3 linked regions of the Homo sapiens genome follow. The protein of the gene in region 3 interacts with the protein of the main gene of each other region in a biochemical or structural test. Each region holds a gene or a part of one and is shown on either strand. Other genes may lie near its edges.

What was found. Proteins that work in one complex are often made in the same cells at the same time.
Region 1: the proteins of ASAP1 (region 3) and TEC form a complex in vitro, tested with the Homo sapiens proteins (one study listed by IntAct).
Region 2: the proteins of ASAP1 (region 3) and PSTPIP1 form a complex in vitro, tested with the Homo sapiens proteins (one study listed by IntAct).

The regions. Positions count from the first base shown.
Region 1 is NC_000004.12:48,140,812-48,147,838, reverse strand, and holds part of TEC (tyrosine-protein kinase Tec), read left to right. Parts: intron 1-1,439; coding exon 1,440-1,514; intron 1,515-2,259; coding exon 2,260-2,431; intron 2,432-2,543; coding exon 2,544-2,760; intron 2,761-6,419; coding exon 6,420-6,484; intron 6,485-7,027.
Region 2 is NC_000015.10:76,998,126-77,005,152, reverse strand, and holds part of PSTPIP1 (proline-serine-threonine phosphatase-interacting protein 1), read right to left. Parts: intron 1-7,027. UniProt on the Homo sapiens protein: Involved in regulation of the actin cytoskeleton. May regulate WAS actin-bundling activity. Bridges the interaction between ABL1 and PTPN18 leading to ABL1 dephosphorylation.
Region 3 is NC_000008.11:130,433,675-130,440,701, forward strand, and holds part of ASAP1 (arf-GAP with SH3 domain, ANK repeat and PH domain-containing protein 1), read right to left. Parts: intron 6,669-7,027; exon of another isoform or gene 6,615-6,668; intron 1-6,614. UniProt on the Homo sapiens protein: Possesses phosphatidylinositol 4,5-bisphosphate-dependent GTPase-activating protein activity for ARF1 (ADP ribosylation factor 1) and ARF5 and a lesser activity towards ARF6.

The DNA.
Region 1 (7,027 bases), on a different chromosome or scaffold from region 3:
ATAGTAATTGCACAATAACTTCTACCTATTATTGAGTTACAACCCAGAGCCTAACACAATATTTGTGGAATGCTTAGGTTCTCAGGCCAGCATACAAGTCTACATTTAACTCTTAAATAAAATAACAGTTTCAAATTGAGTATAATAATGCTAAATGGTGAGACAGGATCAACCCCTCTATCTCCAAATATAGGGGGATTATCTTACCATCCACCTGTTGTATTAGAAAGTCATGCTTCATCTACTTATGGAAGCCAAGACATAGCCTAGATATGTACAAACTATAGATATAACGATGTTAAGGAAAAAAATTGCTGACAATATCACTAGGGATTCTAGACAATGTAAATTGCCATTAATGTTTATTGCTGTGATGGACTTCCTGAACACATTGTTAGAAATTGGTTTGTGGCCAGGTATACAAATAATTCATTGTATGGATTTTATTATTCATCAGTTGATGGACATTTGGGTTGTTTCCACATTTGTTCTCTTATGAATAATGCTTCTGTAAACAGTTGTGTACTAGTTTTTGCATGGAAATATGTTTTCATTTCTTTTGGGTATTTACCTAGTTATGGGTATGCTGCGTCATATGGTAACTCTGTGTTTAACATTTCAGGAACTGATTTCATATCAATTTATATCTCATTCTGTTGTTTTCTTTTTTGGTGTTTTTGCTCCCTAATTTTTTCTTCCGTGTTCCTGTATAAGTTTTATTTTTCACCGTCATCTCAATTCATTCAACAAACATATATCAAGTGCCTACTGCATGCCAGAAACAGAGCCAGGCTTTGGGGAGACTTCAATATTTCAGTGGTGGACTAGGTGTAGTCACTGATCCTGATTTTCCCAGACCCTACCACTTGTGGGGAGACAGAGAAGTACATAACGATTTTAAATTGCTTTGAGATATCTTGTAGTAGAGGAAATACAGAGTGCTATGGGTGTTTATGGAAGAGACATCTCCTGTTTCTTATTTAGTGCTGTATGCGACTTGGGTTAAAAGATCCACACTGATTTCCAGTAGTTGGTATTCCCAGTTGTTGCTATCCTAGAGCCCGATTTGTATGCTAAGATTGCTAATACTGAGTCATGTCAGGTGAATAACTTCCATTTTTAGCAGACTAATCTAATTCCCTTTCATAGTTCAGCTCTCATATTGGAAAAGAACACGAAATAACTGTTAGAAACCTTTTAACATCCTTTAAAATATTTGAAAAAAGAGAAAGCTGGCATGGTGCCTGTTAAACACTGTAGTATTTAAAAGAAAATGTTTGTTGAATGAATAAAAGCATATAGCAGAGTGCTGTATGTACACACAGAGGATGAGCAGTAAATGAATAAATGATGAATTTTCTAAGTGAGTTTCCTGTAGCATGTGACCAAGCAGAATGATTATGAATGAGTTTGACTGCAACGCTTTCTTTGATTATTAGGACTTGTCACCAGGCTTCGGTACCCAGTTAGTGTGAAAGGGAAGAATGCACCCACCACTGCAGGATTCAGCTATGGTAACTCTTATTTTGTGGTTGCATGAGCTAATTTTCCTTGAAAAGAATCCATTGTCATAAGATAAATTTGGATGTGTACTATTTCACATACTGGAACTGTTTTTTATAAGTTTATAGTATAGGTTTTTAGATAATTATACTTAAGACCATAGCAGCCTAGGTATTCAATTTTCATCATTATTCATAATTCCATAGAAAACTTTCTGTCAGTGAAAAATAAGCATTATCATGTTAACATCTAAAATAAATCAAAGCCCTTCCTGGTTCTCACTAGCTTTATTGGCTACAAGAACGTGAGTAAGGATGGAGGTAAGAAAGCAAGCTTCCAACTTAATTGTCTTTGTTGCTTCTGGCAAAAGCCTTTAAAACAGCAAATTAGATTATTTCCAACTTGATGGAATTGAAAAAGAACAACAACAAAAAAAAAACCTGAGAAGGAAGAGTGGTAAAGAAGGAAGTATTTGTTTGACAAAAGTACCTTTAACTTTCAGGCTATATTATTATTAGCTTGTTATGCAGAATTGTCTTGCCTTCTTCATTTCACGTTGGTTAGAAGGGATTCATCCTTCCCACCTTTGGCAGTTCAGATGCAGGTTTCAAGTCTGTTCTGTGTTTTACCAGGAATTATTACAGTGTTATCCTGTAATTTTGAGGTTGATCTTGGTTGTAGGTTCTTTTTCCCCCTCTCTGATTCATGCTACATTTTCCTTTTTAAATATGAACACTTTCACTTTCTGTCCTGCAGAGAAATGGGAGATTAACCCTTCAGAACTGACCTTTATGAGGGAATTGGGAAGTGGACTGTTTGGAGTGGTGAGGCTTGGCAAATGGCGAGCCCAGTACAAAGTCGCAATCAAAGCTATTCGGGAAGGTGCAATGTGCGAGGAGGACTTTATAGAAGAAGCTAAAGTGATGATGTAAGTTGCTATCATCTTTCTGGCTCATCTTTTTGTATTAAGAAGTGGCCCCTTACCAAAAACTTGGTAGTTTCTTTTCCTATAGTAACTATATATATGTCTTCCTTCCCAGGAAACTGACACACCCGAAGTTAGTGCAGCTTTATGGTGTGTGCACCCAGCAGAAACCAATATACATTGTTACTGAGTTCATGGAAAGGGGCTGCCTTCTGAATTTCCTCCGACAGAGACAAGGTCATTTCAGTAGAGACGTACTGCTGAGCATGTGTCAGGATGTGTGTGAAGGGATGGAGTATCTGGAGAGAAACAGCTTCATCCACAGAGATCTGGTAACCCTAGCCACCCATATTCCCACTCATTGGCTGAATTCCTTTGTAACACTGGCTCAGCAAATGTGCAATGATGTATTAATAGCCAATTTTTGTTCTTAACAATCTTTCACCATTATTTTTAAAGTTGGTAAATTTAACTTGCCCTGTAATTTTAAACGAAAGATCTTTATTCAATCTAATGATTTACTTAGTTAATATCTCCAAGCAAGTTTCCATGTTTTAATTTTTCGATCTCCATAAGAATCCCATGAGATAGCTACTCACAGTGGATTCTCTTACCATCATTCTTGTACAGATGAGAAAATTAGCTTCAGGGAAGTCAAAAGGCTCGCCTACTGTGATAAATAGGGAAATTGGGGTTGGCCTTGACTTTCTAACTAGAGCCCAAGTTCTTTTCCACCTCACACACTATAAAAAGAAACTATAAGAGAAATCCTTTGGATTTTTAAAAAATCTCTCAAATCACTGGGAAAACATGGAGGTTCATGTTAACTTCTCAAAATGCTAGAAAAAGAAATCCGTTACCAGTTCTAAATTATGATGGAGACAATTTTTCCCTTCTCACCTGTTCTCACTCTCTCCTCCATTCTTCTTTTCCTTCTGTTTTTCTTCTCTACCTGTTCTTTACAGATGCTTTCAGCTATCAGTAGCACTCTGTCCCCTGAAAATAATCAGCTGAAAATGTCTGTTTTCAGCATATCGGTAGCACTGTCTGTCCCCTGAAAATAATTCTTTTACCAAGAAGAGTGTAATTTTCATTTGGGACTTTCTCCCATATTTTAGTTTTAGCTTTCTAGTGATAAAGCATGGACACATTTCTTTTAGAAAGCAGAAAAACTTTAAAAAAATTTTTTTTTCCTTTGAGACAGGTCTCACTTTGTCTTCCAGGCTGGAGTGCAGTGGCGCAATCTTGGCTCACTGCAGCCTCAACCTCCCGGGTTCAAGCGATCCTCCTGCCTCAGCCCCCAAGTAGCTGAGACTATAGGCACGTGCCACCATGCCTGGCTAATTTTTGTAGAGATGGGGTTTCACCGTGTTGCTCAGACTGGTCTCGAACTCTTGAGCTTAAGCAATCTGCCTGCCTCAGCCTCCCAAGTGCTAGGATTACAGGTGTGAGCCACTGCACCTGGCCTTAGCAAAACATTTTTTAAAGTTAACAGTCACCTTAGACAGACATTGTTCTGATAAGTATTTTACAAATAAACTTGTTTAATCATAATTCTGGGAAGTAGATTTTCTTATTATTCCCTTTTTACAGATGAGGAAACTGAGGTGCAAATAGGATAAAATAACTTCCAATGGGCAAGTAAATTGTAGAGCCAGGATTTGAACCCAGGAAGTTTGGCTCTAAAGTCCCTACTTAACTACTATGCTATGCTCTCTAGAATTAAAACATATTAGAGAATTGAAGATTTGGAGATGGAACACTTTATTTCCTAGGTGTGTTTTGGGATACTTACCTTATCTTATATTCAGTTTCTGTGTCTGTAAATTGTGGGTTATAATGTTGTTTGGCTTCCAGGACTGTTTTAAAGGTCACATTATTTGACTGGGGCAATGGGCTTTGTAAAATAGACATGCTGTAGATAACATCAGTTATTGTTATCATTGTGTCAGGGATGATGAAGAACATCTCGTCAGTTAAAACTTGTGAACTAAGAACTAAGAACAAAATAGATGTCCTTATAAAACTGATAAAAACTGAGTATCTACGTGGGTGTGGCAGATTACACCTGTCCACACAGATGATGTTTTGGCAAAAACGATTCTTACATTTCTGTGCCTGTGATATTGGTATTACTATGGTAGGTTTGTGTCACCCCTTATGGGAAACTTTGGATGCTCTTGTCTCCTTGGTAAAGAATCCTGTTGACCATCCAGTGCAGGCATTGTGGAGTTGTGAAGTGTTTTCATAGGAAGATGCAGGCAGTCCAGGGAATGGATATTAACTCTCACTTTATAAGACTCTTAAAATGCACTCAGCAAGAAGGAACCTCATATGAGTGGAATTGCCACATAGAGAAAATAGAATTATGAACAGTCAGGAAGAAAAACATATCTTGGTCTATGGGTTATGGTATTAAAAATATTATCGGCCAGGTGTGGTGGCTCACGCCTGTAATGCCAGCACTTTTGGAGGCCGAGGCGGGCGGATCACGAAGTCAAGAGATCGAGACCATCCTGGCAAACATGGTGAAACCCTGTCTCTACTAAAAATACAAAAAAAATTAGCCAGGCGTGGTGGCAGACGCCTGTAGTCCCAGCTACTCGGGAGGCTGAGGCAGAAGAATCACTTGAACCCAGGAGGTGGAGGTTGCAGTGAGCCAAGGTCGCACCACTGGACTCCAGCCTGGTGACAGAGCGAGACTCAGTTTCAAAAATAAAAAATTAAAAAATTAAAAAAAAATTCTTGTCTTCCTTTTGAGAAATACCACGTCTTTCTATCAAACTATTTTCTTAAACCTTGTAACCTTGAAGAACATGCAAGAAAATATAAATTAAATAATCCACAATTGTATTTGACCAATTTTGTACATCATGTTATAATATACTGGGAACATAAATGAAAAAGCAAACTGTATTTACACATAGCTGTTCTTTTTGAGACGGAGTCTTGCTCTGTCACCCAGGCTGGAGTGCAGTGGCGCGATCTCTGCTCACTGCAACCTCCACCTCATGGGTTCAAGCAATTCTCCTGCCTCCAGTCCTAGGTAGCTGGTACTACAGTTGTGTGCCACCACACTTGGCTAATTTTTTTTGTATTTTTAGTAGAGAAGGGGTTTTGTCATGTTGGCCAGGCTGGTCCCGAACTCCTGACCTCAAGTTATCCACCCGCCTTAGCCTCCCAAAATGTTGGGATTGCAGGCGTGAGCCACTGCACCCAGCCTGTTCTTTGACTGGGATGAGATGACCAATCACTGAGCAGAAATATTGGATAAGAGATTGGTCGCCCATCATTTTGATGGTTGTGTGTTATTAAGCTCACCTAGTGAGAACCGGATTAAGGACTTCAAGAGATGTTCTCATTGTCAGTAAGAAAATTGGATAGTTTAATAAGAACAGGTCTGGGAAGGAGAAAAGTGAGTTGACCCTTCTATTAGCCCTTGTTTAAGAATGACAGTTGGCCGGTGAGGTTGCTCGTGACTATAATCCTAACAATGGGGGAGGCCGAGGCAGATGGATGAGGTCAGGAGTTCAAGACCAGCCTGGCCAACAAATACAATAATTAGCTGGCTGTGGTGGTGGGTGCCTGTAATCCCAGCTACTCTGGAGGCTGGGGCAGAAGAATCACTTGAAACTGGAAGGTGGAGGTTGCAGTGAGCCAAGATTGTGCCACTGCACTTCCAGCCTGGGCGACAGAGGCAGACTCTGTCTCAAAAAAAAAAAAAAGAAAGAAAAGAAAAAAAAAAGACAATTGGTAAAGATTATGTAATAATGCCTTATTGCAAATACAACTTTCTGACCTGCCTATTCATTTTTTTCAAATACACAATGGAAATACTTCCATAGGGGTAAAAACAACTTATTAAAGGGTGTTTCCACTCTCTGCAAATGTTGACTAGGTTACACTAAATTTAATATAAATAGAACTTACATTTTCCTACTTAAATGATAGAATTTTTAAACTAATATACCATCATAATGTTGTTTTCCAGGCTGCCAGAAATTGTCTAGTAAGTGAGGCGGGAGTTGTAAAAGTATCTGATTTTGGAATGGCCAGGTATGTCCAAGTATACGTGGTTTTAGGTGATGTTTGCATTTTTTTGGTGGAATTAATAAGTGTGGGAATAATTTGCACTGATGAAGCAGAAAGGAAATCTTGTTAACTGGTTCTCAGATTAAATTAAGTATATATTGTGATGGTAGTAATTCTCTCCACTAGGTGGTAGTATAGCCTGTTAAATACACTGTATTTCCTGGTGTGGATTAGATTTCTAGAATCTTTTGTTTTCACAAAAACATATTTGGTGGTGAGGTTCTTAGTATGTCCATGTCTGCAGTGTTTTTCTTCTCTTAATTTTTATAATTTAATAGTATTATAAAATACCTTTTAAAGGTATTTAGTTTATTTTTTCTCTCTTCTCCCTCCGTCTATCCATTCATTCATCCATACATCCACCCATAAAAAATCAGGTGCCTGCTCTGTGCCAGGCATAATGATAAGCTGAACCATATAGAGAATAAGACCTACAAGTCCTTGCCCGCATGCAGCTTACATTGAGGAAGAGGGTGAATCAGAAGACCTGATAAAGTTACATGATCG
Region 2 (7,027 bases), on a different chromosome or scaffold from region 3:
CTTGGCCTCCCAAACTGCTGGGATTATAGGCATGAGCCACCATGCTTGGCCAGCAATGGTAATTAATTACCACAATTATCTATGTTGATGCCTCTCAAGCTAAAGTTCCACATGGAGGCACTGGGGAACTTTGAAAAATACTGATGTCCAGGTCCTACCCTCAGAAATCGGGGTGTAATTGACCTGGGGTGTGGCCTGGGCATTGGGATTTTTTAGAATGACAGTCCTACAAGATCTGGCTCTCTGCTTCTCTTTTCTTTCTTTGTTTTTTTTGTTTGTTTGTTTGTTTGTTTTGAGACAGTCTTGCTCTGTTGCCCAGGCTGGAGTGCAGTGGTGCGATCATACAGTCACTACAGTTTCCAACTCCTGGGCTCAAGTGACCCTTCCACTCCAGCTTCCCAAGTAGCTGAGACTACAGGTGTGCACCACCAGGTACAGCTAATTTTTGTACTTTTTTTTTTTTTTAAGAAGTGGTTTCACCATGTTGCCCAGACTGGTCTTGAACTCCTGGGTTCAAGTGATCTTCCCACCTCAGCCTCCCAAAGTGCTGGGATTACAGGTGTGAGCCACCACGCCTGGCCACTGTTCTATTTCTTACCTTATCTCCAACTACTCTCCACCTTGGTCACTCTCTCTAGCCACGCAGGCATGCTCTTGCCTCAGCCCATCACCCCCTGACTTCCTCCCCAGTGTGGCTGTTTCCCGTTCCTGTTTCCACAGCTGGGAAGCCCTGAGTTCCATCTGGCCACCACATCCCCACACTGGCTGCTGGTCTCCAGGGCTCCAGCTGGCACTTCCTGTTGCCCAATGGTGGGTGGCCTGTCAACACCAGTGGAAGGAGCTGTCGCTCTCCTGCCTGTTCCATCACCCATTGCTCAGTGTGCCAGGCCTCAGCAAACCAACACACCCTCCCATTAACTGCAAAGGGCTCTCTGACCCAGACCTGGGAAGGTGGCATCCAGGCCCAGCCCAGTCCGATCCATCTGTGTGGCATCCCCCAGGCCCACATTCCTTCCAAGAGGCTCAGTTTCCTCTCTGTAAAACAGGAATAAGAATACTGACCTCACAGGACTATTGTTGGAATTAAGTGAGATAACATAGATCATCTTGTTACTTGAAACCAAAGGAATGATTCTCTAATGGTGGAGTATAACATGCAATGGTGAACATGATTGGAGGAGGCATTCTGAAACAGCAAGATCTATGTATAAGGCTCACCCTATGGGTGCATATCCAATTATAAATCTGGGTCCCCTGGGAACTGTTCCTGGTCTGCTACTCCACTGTGGTGAGCAGGAGGTGGTCCCTTAGCACTGCCCTGAGCCGCCCCAACCTCAAAGCCCTTATCTTAAGTGATGACGACCCTGACATCCTGCAGATGAGGAAACTGAGGTTCAGAAAGGGAAAATGATTCTCCAAGGCCACCTAGCAAGTGTGGGTGAGGGTTGGGTGAGGCTTCAAAGAAGCCCGCTTCCTTCTTCTTCTTTTTTTTTTTTTGAGACGGAGTTTCGTTCTTTTGCCCAGGCTGGAGTGCAATTGTGAAACCTCAGCTCACTGCAACCTCCACCTCCTGGGTTCAAGCGATTCTCCTGCCTCAGCCTCCTGAGTAGCTGGGATTACAGGCATGCGCCACCATGCCCCGCTAATTTTTTTGTAGTTTTAGTAGAGACAGGGTTTCACCATGGTGGCCAGGCTGGTCTCGAACCCCTGACCTCAGATGATCCACCCGCCTCGGCCTCCCAAGAAGCCGATTTCCTTCTAAGCCTGGAGGATGGAGCATGACTGAGTCTGTGAGGGAGGAACCTTCCAGAGCCAACCCAGAGGAGAGTCCTGGTGTGGGCAGCCCAGGGCCCAGGGCATCATGCTCTCTAGCTGGAAGCAGAGGCAGTCTTGGTTTCCACCCAAAGTTCCCTCCATCATGTGGTTTGCAGCGTCAGCCAGGCTCTGGGTGAGGAGGAAGGGCATCCCACTCACAGCCCGCAGCCTCTGTCCTCTTTTGCATGAGAGGAAACAGCCACCACCAGAGAGGGTGCAGAGAGGCAGAAGAAAGTATCTCTGCCACCACTTAGGGCAGAGACCTTTCACAATCCAGCTCGTGCCTTCCCTTCCTACCAGTCACCTTGCACAATGCTCTGGGCCAGAAAACTGTCTTCCAAACCCCCTTCCACACCTTTGCCCATGCCGTACCTCCCACCTTGAGTGCCGTTTGTCCTCCTGACATGTCTCAAATCCTCACCCACCCTTCAAAGCCCAAAGCAAGGCCCTCCTTCTCCATCCCAGGGGCTGCCCTAGTTCTGTGTAGATGTCAGGAGCAGCCAGGAAAAGCATGTGGGTTCCAGGGGACTGGAGCACAAAGTGGGTCATCAAGAAGCAGATCTTGTTTTTTATCAAGAATAAAATTGAATTCAGAACACCAAATCGACCCAGAACCCTGCAGCCAGCAAATCCTGGCAGTGACCATCTGCAGGCATCGCAAAAGCAAAGCAAGCATGACCACAAACCTCTGCAATCTTCTAACACCTGAGCAGCCGGCCACGTCCTGTGGAATGGGCACAGATGAACGAAGTTCTTGGTCCCCAGAGGCCCACGTACCACAAAATATGCACCGAGCATGTGGAAAAGGGCATGCTAGCAAACCACAAATTTGGCCTAGAAACACCAACTCATTCTTGAAAGCAGGAATTGCTTAGTTTTCTTTTTAAATATTTTCTTTTTAATGACAAAGGTACTCTGTATTGACTTGCAGAAAATTAGATGGGGGATGGAGAGAATCCTACTTCCAAATCCATAGACACCAGTGTTAACATGTAGGGAAGCATCCTTTCATCCTACACAAATTAAAGTAGAAGCAAGAACAAACTCTCTAGAATTCAGGGCAGAGGGCAATAGAGTTCGACAGACCTAGGTGGGAGTCCCTGCTCTACCCTGCACAGGTGACCCTCGTCTGGGCCTAGACCTGCCGTGCCTTAGGTCCCATCACAGAGTCAGGAAGACACTGACAATGCGTTTGGGGGCATGTGGACTGAATGGCAGCATGCCTGGCATGGAACAGGCACTCAGCAAATGGCAGCATTGCTGCTCCTCAGGGGATGATGTAAGTAGCTGGGATTCAGGGAAAAATTCTTCATGGGACTTGAAATAAATGTCCTCTTTTTCATTTTTAATTGTTTGATTTAATTTTTGAATAATTAATACATTCATATGGTTCAAAAATCAAACAGTATAAAAACATCAATCCTGAAAACGTTCACAGCCGCTCAGCCTCATCCCTCATCCATCTCCTTTCTCTCATTCTCCCAACAGGCAACCACTTTAATTAGCTCCCTGTGCATCCGTCCACAGATTTTTGTTGTTAATACTACAAGCCTGCGCCAGTATAAATGCTTATTTCCCCACTTTTCACAACGGGTTGCCGACCAGGTGCACTGCCAGGCTCTCTGCTTTTTACAGGGAACACCAGGTCTTAAAGAGCTTTCCCAATCAGGAAAGGGAGAGCCTCCGTCCTCACTGCTTCTGACAGATGCAGCCAGGCAGGTGCCGGGAAGGTACTTGGTGGCAGCAAAGGCAGGATGGCCAGGGCCTCTCTCTCCCACCTCCTGCACTGTCTGCAAGCTCTGAGTGCACCAGGGCCACTCCTCAGCCACTGGCCTCCTTGGCCCTCAAAGCCACAGCAGTTTGCTGGGCTGCAAGGCCTTCCACAAAGTCAGTGCAGGCTCTGGTTTCCAGCAGGGCCCCATCCACAGGCCCTGACCCTTCCAGGCCATTCTGGGGTCCCTCCTTCCTGTGTGAAAAAGCTCCTGCCCAACCAGAGGACTATGGGGGATCCCAAAGTGACTGCTAGTACCCATGGCTGGAGAACTGGCCCCACTCTTTCACCCAGAAATGCCTCCTTCCCTGGAAAATAGCCATTAGCCTCCTCTGCCCAAAGAAATAATCCCCAAGTGAAAAACCTTTATAGTCAAAGATCTACCCATGGTGTCACTGTCCAGAATAATAAATAATTGGCAGTAACCTAAATGTTCAGCAGTGGAGGACTGGGCAAAAAAAATCACAGCATGGTCACCAAATTCACAAGCTAGAGAACTGTGCAGCCATGAACAGTGGTGTTGCTGAAAATGAGGAACCCATGTCCACACCCACAGGTGTTCCCGATGGAGTGAGTTACGCTAAAAAAAGGGGAGGGTGGCAAAGTGTGAACAAACCTAGCGCTACTGAACCATACACCACAAAAATGGTTAAGATGGTACATTTTATGTGTATTTCGCTACAATTTAAAATAAAATTTAAAATACTAGAAAAAAAAAGGAGGGAGGGCCGTGCATGGTGGCTCACGCCTGTAATCCCAGCACTCTGGAAGCCAAGGCAGGAGGATTGCTTGAGCCCAAGAGTTTGAGACCAGCCTGGGCAACACAGGGAGACCTCATCTCTGCAAAAATAAAAAATTTGTAAAAGAAAGGGAAAATACAAAATTATGTACACAATATGCTTGCACCTATGTAAGGCAATCTTATGCAAACACAGCATAATATTAGCAGTTGTGTGATGAGACTAAAGGTGCTTCTTCTTTTCCTATTTTTCTCCATTTCCCCACTTTCCTTTTAGGATCTTATATTAGTTGATTTTGTTTCTTTAGAAAGTGTGTGTGTGTATGTGTGTGTGTGTGTGTGTGTGTGTGTATATATATATATATATCTCTCTTTAAATGCCCAGGATGGAACAGGTGCCCAGCAAATGTCAGGCTCTCCTGATGCCCCTGGGCCATGGTAGACAGGTCTGGGGGTAGGGACAGGCAGCTTTATGACAGATCAGAGTAGGGCCCCTCAGTCCCCTTCTCTGTAGCCTCATAAATGGGCACCTCAGCATCTCAGAACTGGGAAGGGAAAAGGCACCAGTGGCTGAGTGCCACATAGGGAAGGGGCAGACCAGCCCAGCTGGTCCCACTGTGTGAAGCTGGTGAGTCACTGCCCCACTCGGCAGCGGTGCTGTCACCTGTTAAATGGGCTTGGGGAGGCTCAGCTCCTCCCAGTGTGGCACAGGGGTTTCTAGATAGAGCCAGAGCCCAGCCTCAAAGGAGAGATACACCCACATGTCAAGGGGAAAGTTCAGGCCTATTGTCCCCATACCCCCTTGGTGGTTCCCACCCAAAGGGTGGGTGACAGTCACTGCAGTGCATGTGACCCAGCCTCCCCAGGTCCTTACTTTTCCTTTTAACTACCCTAAAAGGAATAGGATGTGGATCTCAATAGAATCTGGTCCAGAACTAGATTTTCCCTCTTAAAACAATATCTAATGACATCTTTGCAAAGGCCATTGGATAGACATACAGGTTGCGGGGGATGGGGGACCTGGGAGAGGATGGCACAGTTGAGATACTGCTCCTCTCAGAGCACTCCTTGCCTGACCCAGTTATTCCTCCAGCCCCGGCACTGAACTATGGCTTCCTTCAGGTCAAGACAGTTTCATTCATCTGATTAGATGTTGCAGGGTGAAGAAGCTCAGGGGTCCAGCGTGGACCACCTAGTAGACAGCCCTACTCACCAAATATTTGCAGAATATAACAAAAGTGAAATGTAGTGCTGGGCGCGGCGGCTCACGCCTGTAATCCCAGCACTTTGGAAGGCTGAGGCGGGTGGATCATCTGAGGTCAGGAGTTCGAGACCAGCCAGGCCAACATGGTGAAATCTCATCTGTACTAAAAATACAAAAATTAGACAGACGTGGCGGCGCACGTCTGTAATCCCAGCTACTCGGGAGGCTGAGACAGGAGAATCACCTGACCCCAGGAGGCGGAGGTTGCAGTGAGCTGAGATTGTGCCACTGCCCTCCAGCCTGGGTGACAGAGTAAGATTCTTTCTCAAAAAAAAAAAAAAGTGAAATGAAGTAAAAAATGGGTTCAGGAAGGGAGATGGACCATGGAGACATTCACTGTCCATTCATTTATTCTATGAACACGTCCTCAGCCAGTACCCCACTTGTCAGCCCTGTGCAGAGGATACAGACAGACATTTCTTGCAATAATTTGGCCACCTGCTGGGAGTGGAGCCACGACAAACTGGGGGCAGGGGGAGGACCCTTCCTTCTCTGGGCTTCCCAGCGCCTTAGACTCAGTGCTAGGCCAGTGCCCTCTCCGCTCAGACAGCTGGTATTCTCAGATTCAACCTTGTCTCACTGACAGGTCCCACTCTGAGGCTCATTTACAAACTTCCTGCCAAGGTGTGATGCTCTTTATCATCTGTGTGTATCACAGAAATCACATTATCCCTTCCCTCCCTCTGTGGCTGGTCCGCCCTGCCTCACTCCTACAGCAGCGTGCATCTGAACACTCGGCTGCAGCTAAAATCAGGCTATAAATAAATACTGTGTGGCCACACTGACAAAATTGCAAAAACAGGCCGACTGAGGGACAGGACTGTGTCTGCTCCCATGCTGAGTGTCCCCACTACTTCTGTGCCACTACAGCTGCTTTTCAGACTGTTTCTGTCTCCTTCCTTGCAATCAGGCTGCTAGCTGCCTGTGAAACGTCCTTTCGTAGTCCAGGTCCATCAGCATTTATCCATCGCCAACTGTATATCAGGTACTGTGCAGACTGCCACTAATTGCTACATCTATAGGCTAAAAGACCCCATGACCAAGCTCATTAAAATTGTGGGTGAAATTAGAGTTCATAGGACCTGAGTAAAAGCTAGGGGACATCTCCTAGGAGTGTAGTATATGAGCTTTAAGGAAAGCTCTTAGGGAAATCATCTTTGGCTCCTGAGAAACCACTTTTGCTTCCTCCCTTACTGTGAGCTAAAGCCAGAAACAGCAGGGCTGGCTCCCCTCCTCCGCCCCGTGTTCTGTATGGGTGAGGTTGCCCAATAACTGAGGGGCTGTGATATCAAACATGATCTTTCCAGTTTAGCCAAAGTAGGGTCCCTCCACTCTGTCAGCTCTGTCACCCAGGCTAGAGTACAGTGGCACAATCTCAGCTCACTGCAACCTCTGCCTCTTGGGTTCAAGCTGTTCTCCTGCCTCAGCCTCCCAAGTA
Region 3 (7,027 bases):
TTCACTCTTTCATGCTTCTTCTCCCTACTGATCATGCAAATGAGAATTCTTATCTCATTTTGAAACCCACTAATTTTTGTTTAGTACCAGTTACGTGCCAGGCACTCGCTTAGCCACTTTCCTTATATATTGCTTTATTTGACACCCTTAAAAAACTGTGAGAGTTTTCACAATTTACAGACTAGAAAACTAAAGCTTAGGCAGGCTAAGAGAAAGGCTAAAAGCAGACTCTTCCAAGGCCACATGAAGAATTAAGGCGTGGAATTAAAATTCAAGTCTGTAGAGGCAATATTGTATCGTGGTCAAGAGTATGGGTATTGAACACAGATCGCCTTGCTTAAAATCTTGCCAATTACAAGGGCCAAGCATGGTGGCTCACACCTGCAATTCCAGCACTATGGAAGGCCAAGGCAGGTGGATCACTTGAGTCCAGGAGTTCGAGACCAACTTGGGCAACACAGCAAAACCCCATCTCTACTAAAAATACAAAAATTAACTGTGCCTGGTGGCGCACACCTGTGGCCCCAGCTATTAGGGAGGCTGAGGTGGGAGGATCACTTGAACCTGGGAGGATTACTTGAACCTGGGATTGCAAGGATGCAGTGAGCTGCCATAGCGCCACTGCACTACAGCCTGGGAGACAGAGTGAGACCTTGTCTCAAAAAAGAAAAAAAAAATCTTGCCACTTACTAACTATATGACCTCAGGGAAGTTAGCTAGGCTCTGCGTATTTCAGGTTCGTCGTATATAAAATGGGAGTTAGAAATAGCGCCTATTTCATAGGGTTATTATGAGGATTAAATGAGCTCATAGAGGAAAACTGCTTACAACAGTAATGACACATATTAACGAGCAATACATAATAGCTATCACTATTGATTCCAAGTCCAGTGGTTTTCCCACAGCATCATGACAAATGCTCCTACCCTCCACCCGCCAAGTCACCTTAGGCAGGAAAGAATGACCTAGCCAAAGGACAGCCCACTGGAGGGGTCATGAGAACCACTGGCCAGAGGAGGAGCCGCAAAGAACAGTGGGTCAAAGATCACAAACGCAATGACATGCAAAAATTCCATCCCAGAACGGCTCTCTGTGACGGCTCGGCCCATATTGATGAGGTCCTGAGGGAACTTCTAGGGGAAAGGATATCACATGAGACAGGAAGCAGGTCAGCTCCCCAGTGCCCAAATACTGACCATACACCGAACAATAGCCCCTTAGCTCGAACAAGCTTTGAAGACCTGAAATGCTTACAGCCCATCCCCTGAAAACCCAGTGCCCACAGTGATTACAGGGCGAGGTGAAGGAAGTTCCCAAGGCAAGATGGCTGCTAGAAGGCACGTTGGCTGCTGGAAGGCACGCTGTCCCATCGGCCTTGAAGACAAGACTGACCCCTTACCCCTCCGAGGCTCCTACACTTCCATACTCATTATCGCGCTGTAACCTGGCGGGGAGGGTGACTCAGGACAGAAGCTACCATCCCCTTTACGCAGGTGGGGAACTGAGGTCCACAGAGGATAAATGGCTACTATTTGAGGTCACATAACTAGTCAGTATCCATTCCAAACTAGAATTCAGGACTTCTGAGTCTCAATTCAGTGATATTCTTCAGCATCTTAGTAAGTCTTTTGCGTCAGCATGCGTATTCTTCAAGCACATGCATTTTCTTTCTTTCTTCTGAAATGTTTATTGTCTTCCCTGTGCTAGACTTGGTGCTAGGCACTAGGGATTACAGAAATGATCAGGGCCCTACCACTGCCCTTGCACCTCCAGCAGGCACTGCAGCAGGTGAATGCACAGGACGCACTCAGTAAGTGCTTGCTGATATGAATCCAATTGTCTCATTACTAATGTTCTGTTACAGATTTCAGTTCTTTCTCCAAAAAGGCAATTTTTACATTTTTATAAATGTTCTTTCTTTTCCTGGTCTGAAAAAGAAGACTGAATATTAAGCTAGCTGGTTGCAACTTGGTGTCTCCCAGAATTAGAGGAGAACTGAGACCCCTTTATAAAATCAGGACCCTCAAAGAGATCAAAATCTAAATGATTTGATCTCTAAAATGAGGGCCTGAATTATTCCTCCCATCAGCCCAGAGAAATGGCAAGAAAGCAGGATCTGAGTAAGGAAAAAAGGCTTCCGTGCAGATTTTAAAGCCTCTGGGTGTGACTGTGGAATCCACCATACACCATTGGTCTGGGGTCAAAATATGGGCCCAGAAGCTCCCATAGAAACTTTTCCAGGACCCAGGAAACACTTAGGGCCTTTGCTGAAGCATAATACTGCTCTGTGGAGACATCTCTGCTACCCAAGATAGGTGGGGCTCTCCTGGGGCATGAGCCACTAAGCCCCCAAACCAGAAGACACAACAAATGGGAGAACTGGCTCCTCTAGAACGAACCTAGAGCAATGTGAAAGAGAACATTAGTATATTTAAAATGAAGATATAAAACACAAAACAGAAACCCTAAGGAAAGAAAAGGACCCAAGGATGGAAGGGCAGGCTGAACTGAAAGAGAACTAAGAATTTCTAAAAGTAAAATGTATAGTCATTAAAATTATAAACTCTCACCTGTAATCCTAGTACTTTGGAAGGCTGAGACAGGAGGTCCGCTTGAAACTAGGAGTTTGGTTTCTTTTGAGACATGGTCTTGTTCTGCCACCCAGGCTGGAGTGCAGTGGCACAATCTTGGTTCACTGCAGCCTCGACCTCCCTGGGCTCAAACAATCCTCCCACGTCAGCCTCCCGAGTAGCTGGGACTACAGGAGTGCACCACCATGTCTGGCTAATTTTTGTTATTTGTTTTTTGTTATTTTTGGAGAGGTGAGGTTTCACCATGTTGCCGAAGCTGGTCTCAAACTCCCGAGGCTCAAGCAATCCACCCGCCTTGGCCTCCCAAAGTGTTGGGCTTACATGCATGAGCCAGTGCACCTGGCCATTGAAGCCAGAAGTTTGAGACCATCCAAATATAAAAAATGAATAACCAGGCAAGGTGGCTCATGCTGGTAATCCCAGCAACTTGGGAGGCTGAGGCAGGAAGATCACTTGAGCCCTGGATTAGAGGCTGCAGTGTGCTATATTTGTGCCACTGCACTCCAGCTGGGGCAACACAGCAAGATCCTATCACTTAAAATAATAATAATATAAAAAATTAGGCTGGGAGTGGTGGCTTACTGTGATCCCAGCACTCTGGGAGGCTGAGGCAGGCGGATTACCTAAGGTCAGGAGTTCAAGACTAGCCTGGCCAACATGGTGAAACCCCATCTCTACAAAATACAAAAATTAGCCAGGCGTGGTGGAACATGCCTGTAATCCCAGCTACTCAGGAGGCTAAGGCAGGAGAATCACTTGAACCCGGGAGGGAGCAGTTGCAGTGAGCCAAAATCACACCACTGCACTCCAGCCTAGGCGACAGAGCAAGATTTCATCTCAAAAAAAAAAAAAAAAAAATTAAAAATTAAAACTCGATGAAAAAAGTTCAACAAATGTGGTAACACAGCTAAGCAGCTGAAGCCAATATACCTGACTCAGCCCCCTTGTTCAGTGCCTGTCATTTGCTGGGCACTGTGCTGGGCACAAAGGGCCAAGAGGAATAACATAGAGTCCCAGTTCCCAATCCCCTTCAAGATGCCCCAGCTCACAGGTGAGGAACTATATGAGCAAACACATTTCCCTGCAAGACAGCTGTAATAACGGCTACCATCTACGAGACCCTTGTGCTGGCTGCTTTTCTTACATTATCTCAGTTAAGTCAGTATGGTCAGTGCAAAAGAGAAGGACAGGTGGTGACTACAGTAGACCCCAGAATCTTCTGGTTTTCCCACCCACCGACCATTCCACTGAGCCATCCTGCATCCCCCAAGGTCTCAGGAGAGAACAACTATAATGGAATGCCTGGGCACCCTTTTTACATTTCTACTCAAAAGGAAATTATTTAGATAGATAGACTAACTACAATGAAATAGGCACACAGTGTTGTTACACACAGGACAAGTTTTTACAGAGGCAGAAGCCTTGACCAAAAATTCATGATTGGTTTTGAAAGAGGAAATGTCAACATCCCCCAGAAGCCGCGGGTGGGCGCTGTCTTGACGCCCTTCTTCCTGTTGTGCCCACGGCTGATCCTCCCCAGCTGGCTTCTGCGTAACTCCCACCACAGCTGGGGAAGTACTGACAGGCACTCTTCTTTATCCCAAACCAGGCTCCAACCAGGATCCCGCCACTGGAGGGACATACTTACTTTTGTTTTCCTAACTCTGTGCACCTTCGCACTTCCTGACTTAGGGCAGTGAAGGAAGAGGAAACACCAAAAATATTACAAGACAAGCTTAGTTTGTGGCATTTCCAAGAGATGGGAGCTGAAGGGGCTGGCAGGGTGACCCCAGGCAGCAGACGCCCTCAGTCGCTTTGTAACTCAGCTCGTCGGTGGCCAAGAGAGCTCATGTGCCTCTCCAAAGTGCTTAAGGTCTCAAGAAACCGTCTGTTTCTGGGGAGGATCTGGGACAGGAGCCCATTTTCTCTAAATAACTGAGAGGACTTCAGAAATCTGGTATTAATTACCCCTCGCAGCAACGTGGCTACACAGCACATCATGGTGTGTTTCCTTTACTCTCAGAAGATGGGGCCACCAGTGCGCCAGGCCCTCCAGTTGCTTCTTCCCCTAAGGACTCAGACGGATCTGTCCTAATCGAACCACACACTCCCTCCTGACCTCTCCTGGGGCCAATGGCCTGCTCTGGGAACAGGGCTGGCTGAGGTTAGGGACCTGGCTGCAGCTTTGGAACAAGGTTTTAGCCATACAAAAGGAACAACTGTAGGGATGCGTGCTGTGCTAGGAAATGGACTGGGGGCAGACTCTGAAGTCAGAGGACCCAGCTCACACCCTGCCCATCCCTTCCTGGGAGAGGACTTGGGGTACGAGGCGGGGAGCTGGTAGAGGGTTTGCATGGGTTGGTAAATTTAATTTTTTTCAAGAGGCTGGGTGAGAAATTAGTGTCCCTGGGTTGAAAGTGAACAATCGGGCCGACAGCTGAAGAATGCACAGTGAAATAAATCCTCAACTCCAACTCTCCACGGAGGCCTGGCACAGAGAAGAGCTCTGACGAAGGAGTGACTGTGAGGACACAGTGGAGGCTGACTCCCACAAGTGCATCACTACAGCCACGGTAAGATGTCCCTGACCCTCTCTTCCCCATGGGTTAGGAACCTCTCCCCAGAGCTCCCGTAACACCCTTCTTTCCCAGGCTGCAAAGATATCCTCATCCTAATCCCCAGGACCTGGGAACACATTAGGTTCCATGAGTTACATGGCAATGGAAAATGAAGGTTGCAGATGGAATCAAGGTTGCTAAGCTGTTGACCTTAAAATAGGGAGAGTAGCCTAGATTATACAGGTGGCCCAGTGGAATCACTTTAAGGGTCCTTCAAGGTGGAAGAAGATGCCAGAAGGGAGAATCAGAGAGATGGAAGCTTGAGAAGGATTAAGACCAACACTGCCGGCTTTGGAGGTGGAAGAAGGAAACCACAAGCCAAGATATGCAAGTGGCCTCCTGATACTGGAAAAGACAAGGAAACAAATTCTTCCCAGCGCTGCCAGGAGTAACATCCTCTGCTAACACCTTGATTTCAGCCCAGTGAGATCCATTCTAGACTTCTGACCTCCAGAACTGTAAGATAGTAAACTTGTATGATGTAAACCACTAAGTTTGGAGTAATTTGTTACCGCAGCAATAAGAAACTAATACACTATCATTATGCTTACCCTAATGTAATGCAATTTTTATTTATATGTCTATCACCCCCATCAATAATAATAATAATAGCTAACATTTGTCGAATTTACCCTTACTGTGAGCACTTATTATCTGGTAAGGCCAGCACCAAGTGTTTCATTCACATAAGATATTAAAAAAAAAAGGGTAACTTCAGTTGAACACACAATGAAGGTAAACACAGGGACTTAAGAGTAGGGGAGGGAGTTAAAAGCATCTTCGAGGAGATAAAGACACAGGTGCTTTTTAAAGATGAGTAGCAATTAGCCTGGGAGAGAGGAAGAGCATCCCCCGCAGGGGGAAGAACGTAAGCAGACACTCAGGGAAATGAAACACAGGGCATGTGCCGGCAAGCACTCTGGCAGCTCCACAGCAGGCTGGTAATAATGTCTCTAGCCTGTAAGTCTCCTCGGAGGTCCAGGCCTCCTGCCTGCCTGAAATCTCCACAGGATGCCTCCTAGACATCTCAAATTTAGGATGGCTGATACAGAACTTGATTTTCTCCATGAGCATAATCCTCCTAGTCTTCCTGTCTCCCACAACAACGCCACCATACACCCAGCTGTTCAAGCCAGAACCCCAGGAGTCACCCTTGAGTCCTTTCCCTTGCCTCATTCCAATGTAATCTATCACCAGATCTCATCAATGCTATCTCCAAGATCTAAGTAGGCTCCTCCCACTTCTCTCTACCTCCATTGCTGCTGTCCAGTTCTAAGCCACCATCCTCTTTCCTCCTAAGTGGTCTTCCTGCTTCTACACTTTGCCCCCTATGATCCATCCACTTTTCATAAAAGCAGTCAAAGCAATCTCAAAAATGTCCATCAGGCTGGCCATGGTCGCTCACCTGAGGTCAGGAGTTTGAGACCATCCTGATCAACACGGCGAAACCCCGTCTCTACTAAAAATATAAAAATTAGCCAGGTGTGGTGGTGCATGCCTATCATCCCAGCTACTCAGGAGGCTGAGGCAGGAGAATCACCTGAACCCAGGAGGCAGAGGTTGCAGTGAGCTGAGATCATGCCACTGCACTCCAGACTGGGCAACAGACCTAGACTCTGTCAAAAAAAAAAAAAAAAGAGTCAATCAGATATCACTGCTGAGCTTAAACTCACCAAAGCTTCCCTTTGTACTGGGTGGAGGGACTCTCCCCAGCATGGCTTAGAATCGGCTGTGTGATCTCGTCCCTGCTTCCCTCTCAAACCTCACCTTGCGCCATTCCCCCCATCTCTCCCTTACACTCTAGCCCTGCCTTCCCTC